3 linked regions of the Homo sapiens genome follow. The protein of the gene in region 1 interacts with the protein of each later gene in a biochemical or structural test. Each region holds a gene or a part of one and is shown on either strand. Other genes may lie near its edges.

What was found.
Region 2: the proteins of S100A6 (region 1) and CACYBP are reported together in a solved structure, tested with the Homo sapiens proteins (2 studies listed by BioGRID and IntAct, with this or other methods).
Region 3: the proteins of S100A6 (region 1) and IL9 form a complex in vitro, tested with the Homo sapiens proteins (one study listed by BioGRID).

The regions. Positions count from the first base shown.
Region 1 is NC_000001.11:153,534,099-153,540,504, reverse strand, and holds S100A6 (protein S100-A6), read left to right. Parts: upstream 1-4,513; 5' UTR 4,514-4,556; exon of another isoform or gene 4,557-5,144; 5' UTR 5,145-5,165; coding exon 5,166-5,303; exon of another isoform or gene 5,304-5,601; intron 5,602-5,674; coding exon 5,675-5,809; 3' UTR 5,810-5,906; downstream 5,907-6,406. Other genes in the region: S100A5 (protein S100-A5), read left to right, coding at 300-451, 3,069-3,209. UniProt on the Homo sapiens protein: May function as calcium sensor and modulator, contributing to cellular calcium signaling.
Region 2 is NC_000001.11:174,995,211-175,002,959, forward strand, and holds the start of CACYBP (calcyclin-binding protein), read left to right. Parts: upstream 1-4,736; 5' UTR 4,737-4,970; coding exon 4,971-4,985; intron 4,986-7,749. UniProt on the Homo sapiens protein: May be involved in calcium-dependent ubiquitination and subsequent proteasomal degradation of target proteins. Probably serves as a molecular bridge in ubiquitin E3 complexes. Participates in the ubiquitin-mediated degradation of beta-catenin (CTNNB1).
Region 3 is NC_000005.10:135,892,829-135,900,027, reverse strand, and holds the start of IL9 (interleukin-9 precursor), read left to right. Parts: upstream 1-4,186; 5' UTR 4,187-4,211; coding exon 4,212-4,325; exon of another isoform or gene 4,326-4,330; intron 4,331-4,437; coding exon 4,438-4,473; intron 4,474-4,555; coding exon 4,556-4,588; intron 4,589-5,876; coding exon 5,877-6,008; intron 6,009-7,199.

The sequences.
Region 1 (6,406 bases):
GCCTTTTGAGGAGGTCGTCTTCTCATCTTTCTGCCTCAGGCCTACTTTTCAACAACTCCCCAGCAGGAGAGTCTGTGGTCTCCTTTGGGGTCTTGCTGTTCTCCTTGTACCAGCAGCTCCAGAGTTTGTTGTGGGTCTCATTGTAACCTGTACTGATATAGATGGGCGCTCTTGTTAGTGGATTTCAGTCTCATCCTGGGTTCCAGTCTCTTGTTCTTTGAGGGAGGGGCCTCAGAGGTAGGCTAGTGCTGCTGGTGGTGACTTCCTGAGGAATGGGATCTTCCCCTCTCCCTCTACAGAGCTGCACACTGTGATGGAGACTCCTCTGGAGAAGGCCCTGACCACTATGGTGACCACGTTTCACAAATATTCGGGGAGAGAGGGTAGCAAACTGACCCTGAGTAGGAAGGAACTCAAGGAGCTGATCAAGAAAGAGCTGTGTCTTGGGGAGGTAGGTGATTGTTCCCTCATCCTCCACCCCAAAGTCTGAGTACTCCCTCTGGGGGACACATACCTACCCTCAGGATCCTCCAGCCTAAGCCAGGGGCAGGGTGGCCAAGGGCTACAGACAGAGACAAAGGAAGATGGTGGGGATTTCGGGCCAGCAAAACTCTAGCCCTCTGTGAAGGAGAATGGGTCAGGGTCTCACTGAGAAGGAGGAAGGGCTGAGTCTGGAGGGTTTAGAGAAGGAGATTGAGGAGCCTTCGATGGTGGGGCCAGGCTCTCCCAGCAGTGGCAGAACCTGTGCTAGGGGTCATGGGTGGTGAAGGGATGCAGGGTGTCCAGGTCCAGCTGTGTACAACTCAAGTGTAGGGACTCTGCCTGATTCTTCTCTGTGTGCACAGCATGGCCAGGGCTCTCTGATGGTGCTGGCACTCAAACTGAAAGGTTAACTTGTAAACATAGGGTAGTGAGGAGACAGAACTGGTTCTCACCAGATGGAGGTGGTGGGAGGGAGGTGACTGACAGAGGGGAAGGCCCATGAGGTTATTATAATACAATATCCCCGAGGATAAATAAATAAATAAATATATATATATATATATATATATATTTTTTTTTTTTTTTTTTTTTTTTTTTGAGAGAGTCTCGCTCTGTCACCCAGGCTGGAATGCAGTGACATGATCTTGGCTCACTGCAACCTCCGCCTCTCAGGTTCAAGCGATTCTCCTGCCTCAGCCTCTTCAGTAGCTGGGATTACAGGCACGCACCATCACGCCCAGCTAATTTTTGTATTTTTAGTAGAGATGGGGGTTTCACCATGTTGGTCAGGCTGGTCTCGAACACCTGACCTCGTGATCCATCTGCCTCGGACTCCCAAAGTGTTGGGATTACAGGCGTGAGCCACTGCGCCTGGCCAAGGATAAATATTTTTGAGACAGAGTCTCACTCTGTCACCCAGGTTAGAGTGCAGTGGTGCGATCATGGCTCACTGTAGCCTTGAACTTTCAGGCTCAAGTGATCCTCTTACCTCAGCCTCCTGAGAAGCTAGGACTACAAGCAAATACCACCACGCTTAGATAATTTTTAAAATTTTTTGTAGAGATGGGGTCTCACTATTTTACCCAGGCTGTTCTTGAACTCCTGGCCTCAAATGATCCTATCGCCTCAGCCTCCCAAAGTGCTGAAATTACAGGCATGAGCCACTGTGCCTAGTCTTATTATTTTTATAGTTAAAAAAAATCAATGCTCAAATACATCAAATAACTTGCCTAAGGACAATCCGCTAGTGGGAGGCTGAGCTGGAGTTCTGGGCCAGGCCTGTGAATCATCCTCCCTGTTTCCTTTAAAATTTAGCCTGGGTGCCTCTCCATCTATCACACCTTGAGCCCTGGTAGGCCCTCCCAGAAAGAAGGTCCACAGTGTGCCACATGGGCAGGGGACAGAAGCAGGTATGGGCGTCCCCAGGCCTGATCTCTGGCCTTCTGCCAGGCTGCCTGCATCCTGGAGGTTAATGAGGGCAGAGGGAGGGGCCACAGGTCCAGCAGGGATTAATTACAGAAGGAGAGACGCCCAGAGGAGGGCCTGGCAATAACAGGAGCCCAGGCTGGGGACTAGGATCACGTGACAGACAAGCAGTTTCCGCCTTTGTAAGTCCCAATGTCTCCTGTGAAAACCTGTAGCTGACGGCAATGATGAGGAGACATCAGGATCTGCTTGTCTATATTTTCTTCCTGTTCCACCCAAAGGACCCTGACTCCATCGTCCTAATGGAGCCAGGCTGGGACATCAGGGGACTGAACAACAGTGCACAACCAGGCTCCAGGCAGGCCTCTTGCACAGCTCTCCTAGCAGGGGAGGGATGCAGTGGCTTCACAGCCCCAGTGCACTGCTCTCATTGAGAGACATTTTGTCCGGGGTTATTCTCACCTAGTCCTTAGAATGGGGAGAGAGTCACTCAGAGACTTGGATAATGCTCAATGCCACATAATCAGCAAGGTGTTCTTTTTTTTTTTTTGAGAAGGAGTTTCATTCTTGTTGCCCAGGCTGGAGTGCAATGGCATGATCTTACTTACTGCAACCTCCGCTTCTCAAGTTCAAGCGATTCTCCTGCCTCAGCCTTCCAAATAGCTGGGATTACAGGGATGTACCACCATGCCTGGCTAATTTTGTATTTTCAGTAGAGACAGGGTTTCACCATGTTGGTCAGGCTGGTCTCGAACTCCTGATGTCAGGTGATCCACCCGCCTCGGCCTCCCAAAGTGCTAGGATTACAGGTGTGAGCCACCACACCTGACCCAGCAAGCTGTTTTTATCAGGTGTTGGTATAAAACCTAGATGATTGTTTCTTTGGCTGGGGGACAGTATTGCAGGGAAGGCAGGCTAGGCTAGCATTCCTGCTGTCATTTATTTCCATTCAGGAGTCAGGTCCCTGACCCCCTACCTCATGCCAGGCCCTTCCCTAGGTGTGGGCAGTGGGCAGACTCTGGGGGTCGAGATGCTGACAGTGTCATTGACTCAGCTGGGGCTCACCCTGAAGTTTCGGGGTGGGGATGACACCATGCAGTGGTGCGAGGGCAGGGCTGGGAGCGGGGTCTGAGCTGTCTCTCCACCTGGGTCCACAAAAGATGAAGGAGAGCAGCATCGATGACTTGATGAAGAGCCTGGACAAGAACAGCGACCAGGAGATCGACTTCAAGGAGTACTCGGTGTTCCTGACCATGCTGTGCATGGCCTACAACGACTTCTTTCTAGAGGACAACAAGTGACCAGGGCTGCCCTCCACCCTCACCCTCCACCCTTTGCTGCTGACCTCGGCTGCTCCTCTCACAGACCCTCTTTGGCCCCCTGCCCTCCTCTCCCTCCCAGATGGACCCTTCCATGGGAGGAAATAAAGTTTCCATCGCAGGTGCTGGGAGTCTGGTTTTGAAGCTGTCTTGTCTACCTTGGCCTGGGGAGAGGGGAGCACAGGAAGGGTCTCTCCTTGAGTGGGTTGAGACAGCTTCTGCCTCTGGGGGTTAGGGTCCTGGGCTCCCACTGCATTCCTCTCCTTCTTTGGTGTGGACGTCATTGGTTTTGTCATGGCTTAGTTTTGCCTGCCTGGAAAATGGGGAAGTTAGGCCAGGCGGGAACTCTGCAAGGATGCAGAGGAAGTTAAGAGGGAAAGTTGCTTTGAGAGGAGGACACTGGGAGGGGTTGGGAGTGGCTCCTGAGGGCGGTGATAGGCAGGCAGGCCTGACTTGTCCACAGCTCACCGGAGGCCACCTTGGCAGCACCTGTAGGAAGGGCATGTCTGGCCTCCACACCAGCCCCCTCCCTCTTCACCATTTCCCCTTCAATAGCACCACTCTCATCATCTATGGGGGACAGTGCTTTCTTCTCTCCCTGCCTCCTCCATCAAAATCTTTTCTCAGGGGAGGGTCTGAAAAGGCCTTCACTCCCCCGTAAATAACGAATGGTGCTTACAGGGCTGGGCTCCCACGTGCATGCACATTAACACCAAAGGTGCTGTAGTGAATGGAATTTGGGGCACTGAGGGGAAGGAGTGGAGGTGTTGGTAGGAACTTGTTGCTGGTGGGGGATGGGCGCCGTAGATATCCTTTACACCACTGGCTACTCCCCCTATCTCCTCTGGGGTGACCCTGAGTATCCTCTGTGGGACACCGGCATCCTGTGAGGCGCCCTCCTTGCCCACATTGACGCTGCGCTGGCTCGAGGGTCACATTCACGGTCTGGCAGAGGAAGCAGGGGTGACCGCCGCAGTCCTCCTCCTGCTCCCCTTGCCGAGTCACGTGTCACGAAGAGCAAACTGAGCAAACTGAGCTGCGCAGATGAGGGGAGACTCGTCACCAGGCGTGCAGTGGGCACTGCTGGGCTCCCCCATCCCGTCCTAACCCGGAACAGCCCCGGGCAGGAGGCGTGGAAAGTCGAGGGGGTAAACCGCGAATGTGCGTTGTGTAAGCCACGGCGCAGGGTGGGGCGCGGGCGGGACTTGGGCGGGCGGGGTGGGCTTGGCCGAGCTGGCCTCCGGGGCACCGACCGCTATAAGGCCAGTCGGACTGCGACACAGCCCATCCCCTCGACCGCTCGCGTCGCATTTGGCCGCCTCCCTACCGGTGAGTTCTCTCCAGGAGCCCTGGGTACTTTCCAGGGCCAGCTGCCCTCACGCTGGGGGTCCAGCCATCCCCTGCCCAGTTCAGCCGCTGGATCCAGACTGGGGCCATCTGTGGCGCTCCCCCGCTGGAGGGATAGTCAGGAGCAGCAGTGCTGTGCCAGGCAGGCCTTGGGCTAAGGGATCGCAATGGGGTGTGCTCTTTTGGGGTGCGGAAGGGAGTGCCCTGGGTGTGTCATTGCCACCATGTGTGGCCCTGTGAAGCTGTGTTTAAGCTGCCTTTGCAGCCTCCATTCCCCTCCCCTGCCCAGCCATACTCCTCAACTTCTGGATCCCCTGAAGGACAGTTCTCAGCTGTGCCCAAAGCTACTGTTCCTATATGCTTCTTAGAATCCTTAAGCCACCTCTCTTGCCTTGGCCCTAGTGTGCTCTCTCCTTCCCCTTCAAGCCCTGGGCTGTCTCCTGATGCCATTGTGTGTGGCCTGAGACTGGGTGGTTCCAAAGGAGGCGGGGCTAGTGCAGGCAGCATTATTGGGGTGTGTGGGTGAGAAGTCCTTGCTCCCATGGCACTGACTAGGCCCTCTGCTGCCAGCTCCAAGCCCAGCCCTCAGCCATGGCATGCCCCCTGGATCAGGCCATTGGCCTCCTCGTGGCCATCTTCCACAAGTACTCCGGCAGGGAGGGTGACAAGCACACCCTGAGCAAGAAGGAGCTGAAGGAGCTGATCCAGAAGGAGCTCACCATTGGCTCGGTGAGTGGCCTCCTCCCCAGGACCCCTTTTCCCACCCTTGTCCTTTGGAAGCAGGATTAGGGGAGAGAGAGGTGCCAGGTGCATCTGACTCACATTTACCCACATTCTGAGGCCCTGGTCCACATGTAGACCCTGAGCTGTAGACCCACTCTCCCAGCGGGTAGGGGATGCTTCCAGCCGGATATCCATCTCTCCAAATGAGGACCAGTAACTGAGAAGTAGCTGAGGAGAAGCAATGCCAAAGTGACATGGGTCCTTGGTGATGAGGGAGCACAGAGCCACTTGCAGAGAGGATTGCCTGGGAGGGGGAAGGGGAAGAATCCAGGGTTGTCATCACCACTGAGTATGGATTTCACATTCTAACACATTAGAAGCTGCAGGATGCTGAAATTGCAAGGCTGATGGAAGACTTGGACCGGAACAAGGACCAGGAGGTGAACTTCCAGGAGTATGTCACCTTCCTGGGGGCCTTGGCTTTGATCTACAATGAAGCCCTCAAGGGCTGAAAATAAATAGGGAAGATGGAGACACCCTCTGGGGGTCCTCTCTGAGTCAAATCCAGTGGTGGGTAATTGTACAATAAATTTTTTTTGGTCAAATTTACCCTTGCGTCCTGGCTTCCGAATGATTTCTGTTCCTCCTTGGCTTAGTGGGACACCAGCCATTGGAAGATTTGCTCACGGTCAACCTCTGAAAATGACTCATTGACTCGCCAGGCCAGAGGACCCACCCTGACAAGGCTGCCTCTAGCACATAAGGTGCCTTTATGTGAATGAGGAGAGATGCCCCTCTTGGCAACGCCATCCTAAGGAAAGGCTCAAGTGGTTTCCAGTAGAGAGAGTCCTGGGATGAGCTTGGAGATGGAAATGGTCCCTGGGCCGGGATGTGATGGGGTTTGGGGGCCTGGAAGTGAGGCAGAGATAGTCCCAGAGGCTCCCAGATGTGTTTTGCTCTGGGTGTGGCAAGAGGGGCCCTGGGGTGGGGCAAGTCCCCTTTCTCATCACAGCGCAGGGGTTAGATAGGGCACATCTGAGATGCCTGAGGCTTGGCTCAGGGAGTTTCCTACACCAGTGAGGACGCTGTGTGACTGAGTCTACTGCGGC
Region 2 (7,749 bases), about 21 Mb from region 1:
AACAAGGTGACTGTTTTTGTGAGCCAGTGATGTTTTCAATGCTTTGTGTTGCCCCTTTGGCCCCATTAAGCAGTAATAAACATTTGTTCTGAAGTCCATGTATGTCTTTTTTATTTTTTTAGTTGACTTTATTCTGACTCATTTGAACCCAATGTTTATGTAACACTTCTTACACCTGACCCCAGACTCCAGTCAACGTAGAAAACACACAGTATATACCCTGCAAAATGATACCCTGTGCAGCACCACCACAAAGTGCTTCATTTTCCTCTCTACTGAGGTTCCTTGATTCCACGTAACAGAAACCCTTGCAAGCTAGCTTAATAATAGTAATTTTAAGAGGCAATTAATTAAAAGGAAATAGGATATCTGTATCATAGGTCCCAAAGGCCAAACACTTGGGCCTGAACTGGCACTAGGACAAGGGGCTGGAATGCCATCAGGACTCTGAAAGCAACTGTTCCCAAAATTGTGCTTCTGCTTGTCCTTCCAGATGACTTACCTGCTTCATTCTTCTCTCTGAAAACAGGCTTTCTCTGCTTCTAAGTACACAGCTACCAAGTTTACATATCCTCTCTTCAAACTACCAGCAGAAGACTACCATCTCAATTGTTCCAATTACAAATTCTGGAAAAAATATGACTGGCTAATCCTGGGTCAGGTAGCTGCTGTTAGTCCTTTAAGGTACAGCAAGGTAGGAGATACTATAAAATTCAAACTAAACTTCAGAGGCACTTATGAAAGTGGAGATAGTGTGCAGAGAATCCCAATCATATCTCATTTGCATTTGCATTTTGTGCTGGGAATCCATGGAACCCAAGTGAAATCTCAAGAGATTTGTCAGCTCCTCTTGGAATTCAGCATGTATTAAAAAATAATCAAAGACTGTAAGATTACAGCTTTTGGCCCAAATTCAGACCACAGACATCTTTCATTTGGCCATGTGGTATTTTTTGTTTGTTTGTTTTCTGAGATGGTCTTGCTCTGTCACCCAGGCTGGAGTGCAGTGGCGTGATCTCAGCTCACTTCAACCTCCACCTCCCAGGCTCAAGTGCCTCCCACCTCAGCCTCCCAAGTAGCTGGGACTACAGGCATACACCACCATGCCTGGCTGATATTTCTATTTTTTATAGAGACAAGGTTTTGCCACATGGCAAGGCTGGTCTCAAACTCCTGAGCCCAAGCAATCCACTCGCCTCAGCCTCCCAAAGTGCTGGGATTGCAGGCATGAGCCACCATGCCTGGCCCCCATCTGGTGTTTTAAACAATGTGAAATTTTACATAAAAAGTAAAACAATCAAAATTACTCAGAAGTGCTCACTTCAACAGCACATACACTAAAACTGTAATCTACAGAGAAGACTGTTGTGTCCCCTGCACAAGAATAACACACAAATTCATTAAGCATTCCATATTTTGCACAGTCCCCAGAAGGTCATTTATCTGCTGACAAGCCCGAAGGGAACAGTATGAGTCATAGCAAAAAAAAAATTAAAAATATCCATTGAATTTGGCAGTTAGGAAATCATGAGTAAGCTTGACAGGTACATTAACTGGGGGAAGCAGTAAAGGCTGCCTGCAATAGGACAACTGAATGAGAAATAATTTCATTTTGAAAGGAAAATTATTCCAAACTTTGGAAACAAGGCAAAAAGGTGAGTGGCATGTCCTTTCAGTGTCAAACCAAGGACTAGGGGATTGTACTTTGTTCATTTCATCGTTCACTATTGATTTAAAAGTCCTATACTGAATCTATACATTAACTTGTAGATTTTTGTCCAGTAAGAATGCAAATCCCTACTTCCTTTCCAGTGGAACAGATAACACCAAAAGTTATAGTTTATTACCCTGTGAGACATTAACAGGTTTATATCTAACCTTGCCACCTTATACTAACATTACATTGTTAAATTGCCTATAAATACCTGGCTACTCAAATACACTCTCAGTAACTAATAAGTCGAATAAAGTATTTGTCACATGTCCATTTATATTTGCATAATATTGTCTGGAAAAGCCTCCCTTAGTGTTACTTCTGAAAGACCTAAATAGAGTGAAGAAACGATCTGTGTGATGACCTAGAGGAAGAGGATTACAGGTAGAGAGAAAGCTGGGTACAGACTTGGAGGCAAGAGCAAACCCAGTGGGTTCAATGAATAAGTAAAGTGCCAGACTGTTTAAATCAGGGAGCGGGGAAGGAAGAGTGGTGAGAGATGGGTTCTGACATGAAGCTCATAAAGGTGAGATAAGATACGTAAAACACTCAAGTTCACATTAAGGAGTTTGTACTTTATTCTAAGCCTAATAGGAAGCTGTTAGAGGTTTTTAAGCAAAGGGATATAATGATCTGAAAAGATATCTCGAGCTGCTCTGTGGAAAACTAACTCTTAAGGCACAATGGGGAAGCAGAGAAATCAGTTAGGAAGATAAATTTCAGACAAAATAATGATGACTTGGACCTGGGTGCGTAGGGTAAGAAATATCTTTTCCTTCTACCCATTTTAGGCTCACTGGCTGGGGATCCTGTAACAAAAGACAAATTAACAAGAGAAAAGCATAAATATTAATGTTAGTTTTACATAACATGGAAACTTCATAAAGAAATGAAGACCCGAATAAATAGTTAACCTTAGTGTTGTTTAGAGTAGGTTTGAAGAAGAATGGAGAATTGTGGGAAAATGTGATGGGGCTAAAAGACTGTGATCTAAGGGTAATAAACTGGGGGAAACTTAGCAAGGCCTGATGTTCATATTCGTCTCTACGTCCCTGTGTTTTCAGAGATAAAGATGTTACTTTTATTCCAGGTATAGACAGGGCAATTCTCACATGAGGGTATTACGTCCTGCTTCAGAGCAGAAAGGTGCAAGAAAGTTAGAGACATTCCTGCATATGTTCTTTCTCAAATTCCTTCAGTTCAAAGTATTCAATATGTCTAGGTGCCATATTTTTGGGTAGCATGTCCCAAACCCCGTCAGGTGGTAGAAGCAGAGGTTGTGAGAACTCGTTAAATTCGCTACATATTTTGAAGATTAAGCCAGTAAGGCTTGTTATATAAGATGTAAGGCCTGAGATAGAAGACTCAGGTATGAGTCCTTAGCCTGAGCAATTAAGAGAACGAGGTAACTGTTCACTGCATTAGGTCCATGGGATATTTGTTTTTATTTAATTATGTACTTAATAATTCCAGGCTATTGGTTGGACACTTAAAAAAATTTATACGATAAAATACACAGCTCTTAGGAGTTCATCCCATGAACTTTGACAATTCTATGTATCGGTGTAATATTTCCATTACCTGGGCAAATTCCCCTTCGCCGGGCCTTAAGCATAATCTACAGAAAAAACTACGTACATAAATATACGTTTACAACTCAATGAGATTTCTAAAGTGAACCCACCTATCTATAATCAGTGTCCAAATCAAGAAACATTACCTGAACCTCAAAAGCCCCCTGGTGGCTCTTTCATGTCATTGTCCTCCCCACTATGCTCATTAACACCATGGGCTAGTTTTTAAATGGAACCACGCAATATGAACTCTTCCATGTCTGGCTTCTTTCCCTCAACTTCATTTTTTTGTGTGAAATTCACGCATGTTGCGTTTCGGTAATTTATTTTTGTACTGTACTTCCGATTCTTTACTACAGATAATGGTCAGCCTCCATTCCGCTAACAGCTTTTTTTCCTCTCCGAGTTGCTGATTCTAATTGCTGCCTTGGACGATCTATAAAGCTGAGTGCGCGCTATGTGACCTCTCAGGGGTCGCTGCCTTGGACGATCTGTAAAGCTGAGTGCGCGCTATGTGACCTCTCAGGGGTTGTTTCCAACCGTGTTGTTGACATCTTGAGCCTGCCAAGGACTAGAATAATCTGAAAACTAGGCTTCTCTGGGGGTCTCACTGAGTGACAGGGTTAGAACCAGAAGAGAACATCGTCTCCAGAAGACATTTCACCATTTTCTTTGATGGTAAACAGGCTCACTTATACCGAATCCAAACCCAGGCGAGAACTACGGACTCTTGAAATGGTCGGTGAAAGGGGCGAAAGCACCAGGAAATCGTGCTTCAACAGTCCATGACTGAAAGGAGGGCCTGAAACTGTGGCCATAGGCGGGCCCTTTTGTTAGGGCCTTGACCTGGGCTTCCGCTACAGGGCCCGGTCACGAGGCCAACGTAGCTCCACCTCCTACGGCGGCCAGTGATGACGCCACCACGTCGGAACTGTTAGACCGCGGTGACGTCTCCACCGCGCCAAACTCACTGAAAATCAAACCGCTACCATTAGGAGCCCTCCACGCTTAACATATCCGTTCTTTCTCGTTTGAAAGTAACCAGGCTGCTCCTCCCCATTTTTCGCCTTCTTCTCGCGGAGGCTGAGAGACTAACCTTACACAACATGGCGGCCTGGTGTGTCTGGTGTCCTAGAGCGGACGAAAGCAGGTGACTCTCTAGTCAACTTCCGACTTGGACTCCGAAGATCGGTACGTTATTTCCGGGGCTGGGTTAACGCAGCGGTTCCGAGCTGCGACTGCGCAGCGTGGCCCAGCGCGGTCAAATTATAATACATAAAAGTTGTCAGGGCGGAGAGCAAGACATTACTCTTCTCGGATTGCCGGTTCGCTCGCGAGACTTGAGCGTTGCTAGGAGATTCGGCAGGCGGGCGGAGCCAGACTCGGCGGGGCGGGGAGGGGTGGGGCTAGGCTCGGCGAGGCGAGGAAGGGTGGGTGGAGCCAGGCTTGGCGGGCTGTGCGTGCTCGCGGTGGGCGGTGGCGGCGGCTGCCTCGCGAAGGTTCGAGATCCGTCGCGTGCGGGAGGCGGGCCGCGATCTTGCGCAGGGTCGGTGTGGGCGCAGGCTGCAGCGCCGCGACTCGTGCGGGTAGGCGTCTGCGCTCGGTTTGAGGGCTCGGCGCGGGGTTTCCTGTTCCTCCTTCTGCGCGGCTGCAGCTCGGGACTTCGGCCTGACCCAGCCCCCATGGCTTCAGAAGAGGTAAGTGGTCCGGCCCCATATTCCTTATGCCCCCCGGCTGGAGCTGCAGCGCCAGCCTCCCGCCCTACCGCCGTTTCCGTGGGCTGAGCCGCCCTGCGGCCACCCGGTCCCGCGCCAGTCAGTGCGCCGCCTTCCCGGGGGACACCTCACTCGCCCCTTGCTGCGCCGTCGGCTCCCCAGCGCTTCCACTCGACCTCGCACCCCACTCGCCTGCTGGGCTCGAGCGGGGGTGTGCGGCGATTATCCGTGCAGGCGGTGCGGGGAGTGGGTCTGGGAGAGCGGCCCTTTGCGCGTGTTCCTCAGGCCCTTTCTGCCCTGGTTTCCCAGCCAGTGGACAGGAAGCTTCATTCAAGCAAAGCTGGGTGCAAACATGAGTGTCGTTCTTGGTAGAGGGCGGTTGGAAGGTGAGTTCTCAGTGCTAGCACTTGAATTCTCCTAGTCAGGTTTTCTCTACACACGAGGAGCTGTGTTACTCTGGGCAAGTTGTTTAGCTTCTCTGTGTCGCAGTAGCATCCATTTCATAGGGTTGTTAAAAAATATGATTTCTAGGTGTTTAAGTCAGTGATTGGCAAACAGCAATCTGCTGTATGTGATTTTTAAAATAAATAACTTGGAAAGTTAGTTGTAATTAATAGTAAGAAAGCGAATGGCCTGTGTTAAAGCTCTGTAAACTCTGAACGTTGGAGAATTAAATTTTGTGGAGACTTAGTTTGCTCAGTTAGAAAATGGGAATGATAGTACTTGTATTGCTCATTTCCTGGCGTAAGTGGGAGGTGAAGACGGGACAGTTATTCACAGTTAAGTGTTGGGTGTGTATTAACTAGATTTGCTTTATGAAAACAAGTACTGGGGAGTCCCAAGCTTTTGTTTTGTTTTGTTTTTGTTTTTTAAACTCAAAATCTTTTCTTTAAATGAAGAAAAACTATGAGGTTTGTGTGTTCCAGTATTAATCTGGGTATCTTGTGACAAGTCTTTTAAGGTAGGTCTTGGGTACTATGTGCCCCTAGGAGATAACTTCACAGTCTTGCAGGTGGATAGCTCAGTGTTAGTCCTCTTGAAAGTAGAGATCGTTCTCAGTTTAGGCACTTAGAAATATACATTTGAGGGCACTTGATTTTTGTTTTGTTTGAGATAAAATTCAAGTTTTTAACCATTTTAAAGTGTACAATTCAGGTATTTGTTTTTTGTTTAAATATATTCACAGTGTAGTGCAGCCATCACCACTGTCTAGTTTCAGGACATTTTCATCACTCCAGAAAGAAACCATGTAGTGTGTTTTAAACAATTGCTTCCCATTCCTCCCTCAGCCCCTGACAACTACTCATCTTGTACTTTCTGTGAATTTGCCTATTGTAGGCATTTCATATAAATGGAGTCACGCTGTATGTGGCCTTTTGTTTTTTGGCTCCTTCAACTTAGCACTAACATTTTCAAGTTCATCCATGGTGTAGCGTGTATCAGTACACATGCTCTTTATGGCTAAATAATATTCTATTATATGCATGTGGCACATTGTGTTTATCCTTTCATCCGTTTATGGACATTTATTTCCACTTCTTTGTTTGAGACGGAGTCTCGCTCTGTCGCCCAGGCTGGAGTGCAATGGCGCAATCTCGGCTCACTGCAATCTCCGTCTCCCGGGTTCAAAGGATTCTCCTGCCTTAGCCTCCTGAGAAGCTGGGATTACAGGCGCGCGCCACCATGCCCGGCTAATTTTTGTATTTTTAGTAGCGACGGGGTTTCACCACGTTGGCCAGGCTGGTCTCGAACTCCTGATCTCAAGTGATCCGCCCGCCCGCCTCGGCCTCTGAAAGTGCTGGGATTACAGGTGTGAGCCATGGCGCCTGGCCTTATTTCCACTTCGTGACTAGCATAAATAATGCTGCTGCGAGTACTGTATCCAAGTTTTTTGTGTGGATGTGTTTTCAGTTCTCTGGGGTATATACCTAGGAGTGGAATTACTGGTTCATATGGTAACTTTCTGAGAAACTGTTAGACTGTTTCCAGAGTGGTTGCATCATATTCCTGTAAGAAATGTTTGAAGCTTCTGAAAGTTTCTCCACATCATTATCAACATTTGTTATTTTCTGGGGTGTTTTATTTTTCTTTTTCGGTTTATGATACCATCCTACTGGGTGTGAAGTGGCATCTTGGGAATTTGATATGCGTTTACCCAATGATGAAGATGTTGAGCATCTTTAATGTTCTTGGTGTCCATTTCTGTGTCTTTGGAGAAATGTGTGTTGAATTCCTTTGCCCATTTTTGAGGCACATTGGTGTTAATGCCTCCTAGTGAAAAATTAGGAAATAGGAAGATAAAGCTTGAATGCCTTATGGGTAGGGATAAAAGAGAAATAAAATTTTTATATACGTAAAACAAACACATGCCAAGAAGGCAAGGAAAATTACATGATAAATTAGATAGGAAACTAGGACATCTTAAAGTATTTGTGCAGAAAAAGCATCAAAGGAATCACCTTTGTTGGTTTCAAGTCTGCCAATAACAGAACTGAGGAACTGTCTCAGTTTTAAGTTTTTTCAGTGGATACTTCATAATAAAAAGAGTACTTTAGAGTCAAAACTGGCAATAAAGAGGGCTTGGGAATTCAGCCATTGGGGGAATCCCTTGCCTAATTCGAAGTACCTTTCTCATTCTGCTAGATAAAGTATTCCTATTTCAGTCAAAAAGCAAAACCTCTTGCTTAGACTTAATATATTTCATTTTACATTTCAATATTTTTATTATGAATTAGGAGTTGTAGAA
Region 3 (7,199 bases), on another chromosome or scaffold:
CTAAATGATGAGAACAGGTCACGTAGGGAGGAGCTGAGGAAGGAGCCAGCAGGCCAAGCTTAGCAAGGGTAAAGGCCTGGAGGATGGAAATGAAAAGAAACTGATGTGACGGGAGGGTAGTAATGAGGGGGTATCAAAGAGCGAGGCACCTGGACCAGACCAGACCACATTTCCAAACAGAAACATGCCTCATTCCTGAGAGTATATCCCAAATGGAGCACTCCTCTCTTTCATGAGGAAGGGCTGGGTGAAGGCTTACATTCCTTTCTCTAAGTGAGTGAGCACTGGGGGTGCATTGGTGCATGGAAAGGGTAAGTAACCTGCCCAAGGAACACCAGTGGCCATGGATCACTTGACCCTGAGCCAGCTCCTGAGGGTAGCAGGGAAGGTGGGTGACCCAAGGCCTGCTGGTCAAGCCAAGACTTAACTTGTTAATTCATTCACTTTTCTCCTAACTTCAAAATGTGGGACTTTTCCTAGTAAACCAGAGCCTGCCTGAGATATCTTTGCTGCAGCTACCGGGTTTCATTGAGAGAAGATCTTTGGTTCATTGGACCAGCGAGCTCACTCCACAAAAAGCCTCAGGAAATGGCAGGCCCCCAACACTTCGGATAATCTGGCAGTCTGTGGCCCAGGTCCCCTGCTCCCTTCCCTCTGTACAGATACCTGACCTAAATAACCAGATGGGGAAAGGGAGAAGAGACACCTGAGCAACCAACCCCTAGCTCTACCCTTCCCAGGACTGGAGGATAATAGTTGATGTCTTCAGAAAATGTGGGGTGGGGTGTGGGAACTCAGCCAGGGGGTGGCCAACTTTTCCTGTAAAGGGGCCAGATAATAAATGTTTAGGCTTTACGGGCTACATACGGTCTCTATCACACATGCTTGTTTTTATTTGTTAATTATTTCTTTATAAACTTTAACCCTCTGAACCCTTAAAAAGGTAAACACTGTTCTTAGCTTGTAGACCTTACCTTCAACCTGAAAAGTGGATTACAGTTTGTTGACCGCTAACCTCGGCTGCTTTGCCCTAACAAACTTCAAACCGGATGCCACTTAAACCAAGTTAGGGATGGAGCAGCTGTTTCTTTTAATCTCTATGGGAGTACCCTGAGGGGAGCCTTCACTGACAACTGCATCCCTAGATCCCCATTCCCACTTTCCACATCACCATCCTCACTTACGAGTGAGTGAGAACTGACAACTGCAACTGCATCCCTAGATCCCCATTCCCACTTTCCACATCACCATCCTCACTTACGGTCAGGAAATGGAAGCTGGGAGAGGCCAAGCAATCCCCCAAGGCCATGGAGCTAGCAAGTGATAGAGGCAGGACTTGAACTCAGGCATTCTGATTCTAGAGTCACCGGTCTTAACCACTGCACTGTACTATCCCCTGCTAGAAACTAGAGCTGTGGCTTTCTCTTCTTGGGCAAAGCCCCCATCTGTACAACAGGAGGGGTGGGGTGGTGTTTTCCTCAATATGAAAGGCATACCCGATGGCAGGTGAAATGATTTCCACGGTTCACACAGAGAGCATCAGATAATATTGATTCACAGAATGAAAAGATGATTGCCTTTTCACATCTCTCTCAAGTCTTCCAATAATGTCAGGGAAGGAGGTTTAGTCTGATGGTAATGTATCTTTAAAATCTCTCCAAAGCATGCTAATTTTCTTTTCTTTTCTTTTTAAACAAGAACAGGTTTTATAACTCAGGATCCTCAGTAGGCAGTGATAGCTAGCTAGAATTTTAGTATCACTGTTGTACTATTATTATTACTTCTCTTGTTAGTCTCATGGTTTTATTTTTTATTGCCTTTCTGAATATTTGCTATTTATGAAAAATGTTAGTGTTGCCATTGCTGTAATTCTCTTGTCCATTTCTTCATAGTTATAATATTGCTGCTGAAGCTCCTGCCATCACACCCAAATTGGAATTAAGGGGAAAGACAGGGTTCAGCCACTTTTGTCTCCTATTACCAGGAAAGCAAAATAATTTTACATACTTTGCATTGATCGAAACATGCTGCATGGCTACATGTAGCAGCAAAAGAGGCTGAAAATGTGGGTGTTTGGCTGGATACATTGGTACCCCAAACTAATCAGAATTCTACCATCAAGAAAAAGGCATACATCCAGTGCTTTGTAACAAAAGTGTTTGCCACAGGCTGGGAATCCTTTGAGTTTTCTCTTCAGTGTCTGCAAAGAGCAGGGATGGAAGTCAGAGATGTGGGATGGCTTAAGGGAATTTAGCAAAACACCTGTTTCTCTTTACCTTGTTTACCACCAAGACACTCCCTTCCCCATAGTGCAGTGGAACACTGACGAGCCATCATCACTCCTAAGAAACAATACAAAATGAAAAAAAACAGTATTGCCATACTCTTACAGTGGAGGCGAGGAAATCTTATGAGTTTGTCCCCACTGGCTATTATAGTTCAGAGTGCTAAGCTAAAGAACCCCTCACCTTTTCAATCTACTGTGTAGAAGCTATATTTACTTACCTGCACATACCTCCAAATATGTATCCTAGAAATCAGATTTGAAATCTTATAAATCCCAGAAGTAGGAAGTTCGTATTTCAAGAACTACTTTTCAAATTAGTGTTTTAATTCAACAAGCATTTAGTGAGTGCCCACAGTTCCCCAGGCACCTCCTTAAGTGCTGAGAATATAGGGGTGAACTGGACCCATAAAGCCCTGGAGTATATATCCTGGTGGGAGAGGCAGATAAAAGATCTGCAGAAAAACAGGAGTTCAGGAGGATTAAGAGCTGAAATCAGGAGGCAGACTTCTGGGCTTGAATACAAATTCTGCGGCTTCCTGGCTTTGTGGTTTTGGGCAAATTACCTGCCTCTCTATGCCTCAGTTTCTCCATCTGTAAGATAATAAGAATAATTATAGTACTTCATAGAGTTACACTGAGATTGCTTTTTTGACTCATAGTGATTAAACACAGCCATACTGAAGGGCCAGGAAGCTAAGATGTAGACAGTGTTTTAAAGGGTAAAAAATGGTGATGACAAATTACTCCCCACCTCATTTGGCAGCCGAGTGTATTACATGGCTTAATGCATGTAAAGTACTTAGAAATGTTGCTAGTATGGTCAGGCCCAGTGGCTCATGCCTGTAATCCCAGAACTTTGGGAGGCCAAGGCGGGCGGATCACGAGGTCAGGAGTTCAAGACCAGCCTGGCCAACATAGTGAAACCTCGTCTCTACTAAAAATACAAAAAATTAGCCGGGCGTGGTGGAGGGTGCCTGTAATTCTAGCTACTCGGGAGGCTGAGGCAGGAGAATCGCTTGAACCCGGGAGGCAGAGGTTGCAGCGAACCTGGATTGTGCCACCGCACTCCAGCCTGGTGACAGAGGGAGACTCTGTCTCAAAAAAAAAAAAAAAAAAAAAAGAAATGTTACTAGTATGTAGTAAGTTCTCAGTAAATGTTAGCTACTATACTCTTTCAAGTGCTGGGTTTTTACTTGATGTCATACAGTGTTATATAAGATCTCCAAAGATACTGAGGAGTCCTCAAGGCCAATTTTAACAAGCATGGTTGCCGCATTCTTGTGCTTATAGTTGAACATTTCTTCTTTCAGACACTTGCACAAAGGGATACTTCTAAGATGCATTTGCATTAGGTGGCAAACTTCATCCTGGGTATGAAAAACATTGAGATTTGGGAATAAAGCATAGTAAGACTGAGGTTGCAATTACTAAAGGAAAACCCCAACAGAGATAAGTGAAGTTCTGCAATATCATGCACCCTCCCCCAACCCGCTCTGTCTCCCCAGGCCCCCCTTCGTTAGAACACCCATGACTGGCTATATTATATCAGCATTTCCCATAATGTAAAAAGGGAAAATACAGACCTGGGCGTTCATGGAAAGTATTCTAACTCTCACAACCAGAATCCCTGTCTTTGAATTTTTTTTCTTGGTTTTTAGATCTTTAACTTTTCCTTCAGCATTTCAGTACTCAACTTTTTGAAAATCATCTTTTCTGAGGAATGATATTTCCTGGCACAGCATCATCTCTGTCAAGTGACTCAGTTTGATTTTTTTGTTTGTTAGTATAAAGTGGCCCCAACTTACAGAGAAAAAGTGGGCTCTTGGTATCAGTTTGATGTCAGGGTTTTTCCGTGTTTGAGAGGGAGCTTTAAATACCACTCGATTTGAAGGTGTCTGCAAGCGAGCTCCAGTCCGCTGTCAAGATGCTTCTGGCCATGGTCCTTACCTCTGCCCTGCTCCTGTGCTCCGTGGCAGGCCAGGGGTGTCCAACCTTGGCGGGGATCCTGGACATCAACTTCCTCATCAACAAGATGCAGGTAGGCTGCAGGGGGAGCCCATGGGAAAGACAGCTACTGACAAAGTGAAATATGTATGAGGATGAAAAAACTCGGGGCTGACTAAAGGTTCTTATCTCTCTATCTACTTTAGGAAGATCCAGCTTCCAAGTGCCACTGCAGTGCTAATGTGAGTGAATGCTCTTTAAGAACTTTCCAAATTAATTTTAATTTTCACATCTGGAATCTTCACTCTGAAATTTCCCTTGCAGGTGACCAGTTGTCTCTGTTTGGGCATTCCCTCTGTAAGTATAGTGAAATAACATAATGTTGACCTTGGATTTTTTTGGTTTGTTTTTAAGTAAAAATAAGTTGCTTTATTTAATATTTAATGTTATACATTGTTGCTTAATTTAATTGTTACAGATTAGTATTCCCTGTTAAAACCACATTGTTACAAATTATTCCCTTTTAAAACTACGATCTTGAAATCCTATATTATGAACATTTCTTTGTATTTAATTAACTTTATGCCTCTTGAGAAGTTTGAACACTTTTCAACATTAAAAAAAGAATCCTGAATATCTTTTTAGATAGGTGGCCATGTGCACAATTAAATAAAACTGGAACTAAGGATATAATAATTGCTGTAGCTCATATCATATTGCTTTCTAACTCATTTACTGATAACTCTAGAGTTGTGAAACAATGTAAATAAAATGACAACTCCTTATCTTTCATCTGTCATGAATGATCTATGCGCTATACCTCCCCCTCCCTGCCTCCTCCCTTCCTCCCCACCACCCTGTTGTCTGTCTAGCTGATTAGAGTGACTGTTGGTTTGAATGCTGCCCTCTGGGCAGGTAGAGGATCTGAGGTTGTGAGTGGAAGGAGGGCTTCCAGAGGGCCACTGCCCACTACGGCAGGAAGGATGGGTGGCAGGAAAGTTCTGATTCCTAATTCAAACTCCTGGTTAGGGTGAGGAGGAGGCACTTCTCCAAGGTGCAGTGCTTTATTCTTTCTCATGCAAGGCCTGGGAGAATCTGAAGAATCTGAGCTTCTTGCCCTGGCTAGGGTAAGACATCGCACCCATCGCGGTCCATCCATTAGATGAGAAGAGGATAGAGTGCCTTCTGGGCAGGAACCAGGCAGACAGCACAGCCCCTGTCCCTTGGAGTACCGTCCATGTTTTTAGCTGCTGCTGAAATACCAGCTGCATTCAATTGTCACATCCCATTAGCTGGTGTGAAAAGGCTTTTCCTCACTCTGCACTTTCAGACTTACAAGCCTTGAAGCCGGGAAGCACCCGTTGAAAAGAACATTCAGAGCCGACTATTTCAGGGCCCAGAGCCCTCATGTTTCCTGGATGTAACATACAGGAAGTCTCCTCCAGGGGATGTCACTGTGGAAAAATGGCATCCCCTTTAAATACGGGAGATCACTTCCTACATTGGCAAGGGACCTGTCTAAAAATAATGCAAGTTTGAGTAATGGTGATTAAATAAAAATCATCTCTATTATATTGCTCTTTGTGATATATTTCCAAAGCTGTCCTCAGAATATTTCTTTGAATAAATCCTTACTATTTACCAGGACAACTGCACCAGACCATGCTTCAGTGAGAGACTGTCTCAGATGACCAATACCACCATGCAAACAAGATACCCACTGATTTTCAGTCGGGTGAAAAAATCAGTTGAAGTACTAAAGAACAACAAGTGTCCAGTAAGTTTGTTTTCATATGTGATATGTTCCTGTTGGTGATTTCTATGTGAATGGTGATGCCAACCCTGTTTGAACACAAAAGGATGATAAAGTTGGAATTGGTAGTTCAAGGTTGATAAAAGACATCTAAGAATTTTAATCAGAAGTAATATAATTAAAGTGAGATCCACTGAAACAATAGAATTAAAGTGAGATAGATCATTGTTCCTGACGAGGCCATTTACTTCTCTCTACTATGGAATAATGAAAGAATCCTTTCTGAGTGTAATTAGAAGCTACAATCTAGAGAATCAGGGATGTAGCTCACATAATACTAAATTATCCTAGAGATTCAATGTACTAACTGAATGGATGTTGTTAACAGGGATTTTTTTTTCCTGTTGGTTAAGGAGGTTTTGTTTTGTTTTGGAGACAGAGTCTTGCTCTGTTGCCCAGGCTGGAGTGCAGTGGTGCCATCTGAGCTCACTGCAGCCTCTGCCTCCCGGGTTCAAGTGATTATCCTGCCTCAGCCTCCCGAGTAGCTGGCATTACAGGTGCGTGCCACCATGCCTGGCTAATTTTTGTATTTTTAATAGAGATGGGGTTTCACCATGTTGGCCAGGTTGCTCTCCAACTCCTGAACTCAAGTGATTTGCCCGCCTTGACCTCCCAAAGTGCTGGGATGACAGGTGTGAGCCACCATGCCTGGCCTGCATTAAGGAGGTATTTAAAGGGCAATGCACCCAGGTCAAGGTGGAAGCTTGCTACTCATCCTGAATGCCCATCCACACATTCTTTTCTTCAGCATATACCCTAGTCCCTGACAGCAGACTGGGATGGCAAGTTGGGTAGAGGTGACCTCCCTCTGTTTTTTGGGTATTAGCATCTCCACACAAGATCCTAGAAGGCTGAAAGCCCTGAGCTCAGCTGTTTAGCTGCATGCGTTTCTACCATCAATGGCATCTAGTTCTAAGTGCTTAATATATGCTGTCTCACTGAATAAATACATACCTTAGGGACAATTATTCAATTTATTACTCTCAGTGAGGTTAACTAATTTGCCTAAGGCTGCATATTTGATAAGTGGCAGAGCTGAGATTTGAACTCAGGCCTATATGACCTCAGAGCCCCACTCTTAGCCATTGTACTGTCAAATGACCTTGGAAAGACAACCTAAAAGGATAATGATACAATTTTAGGCCTCAAAGAGTC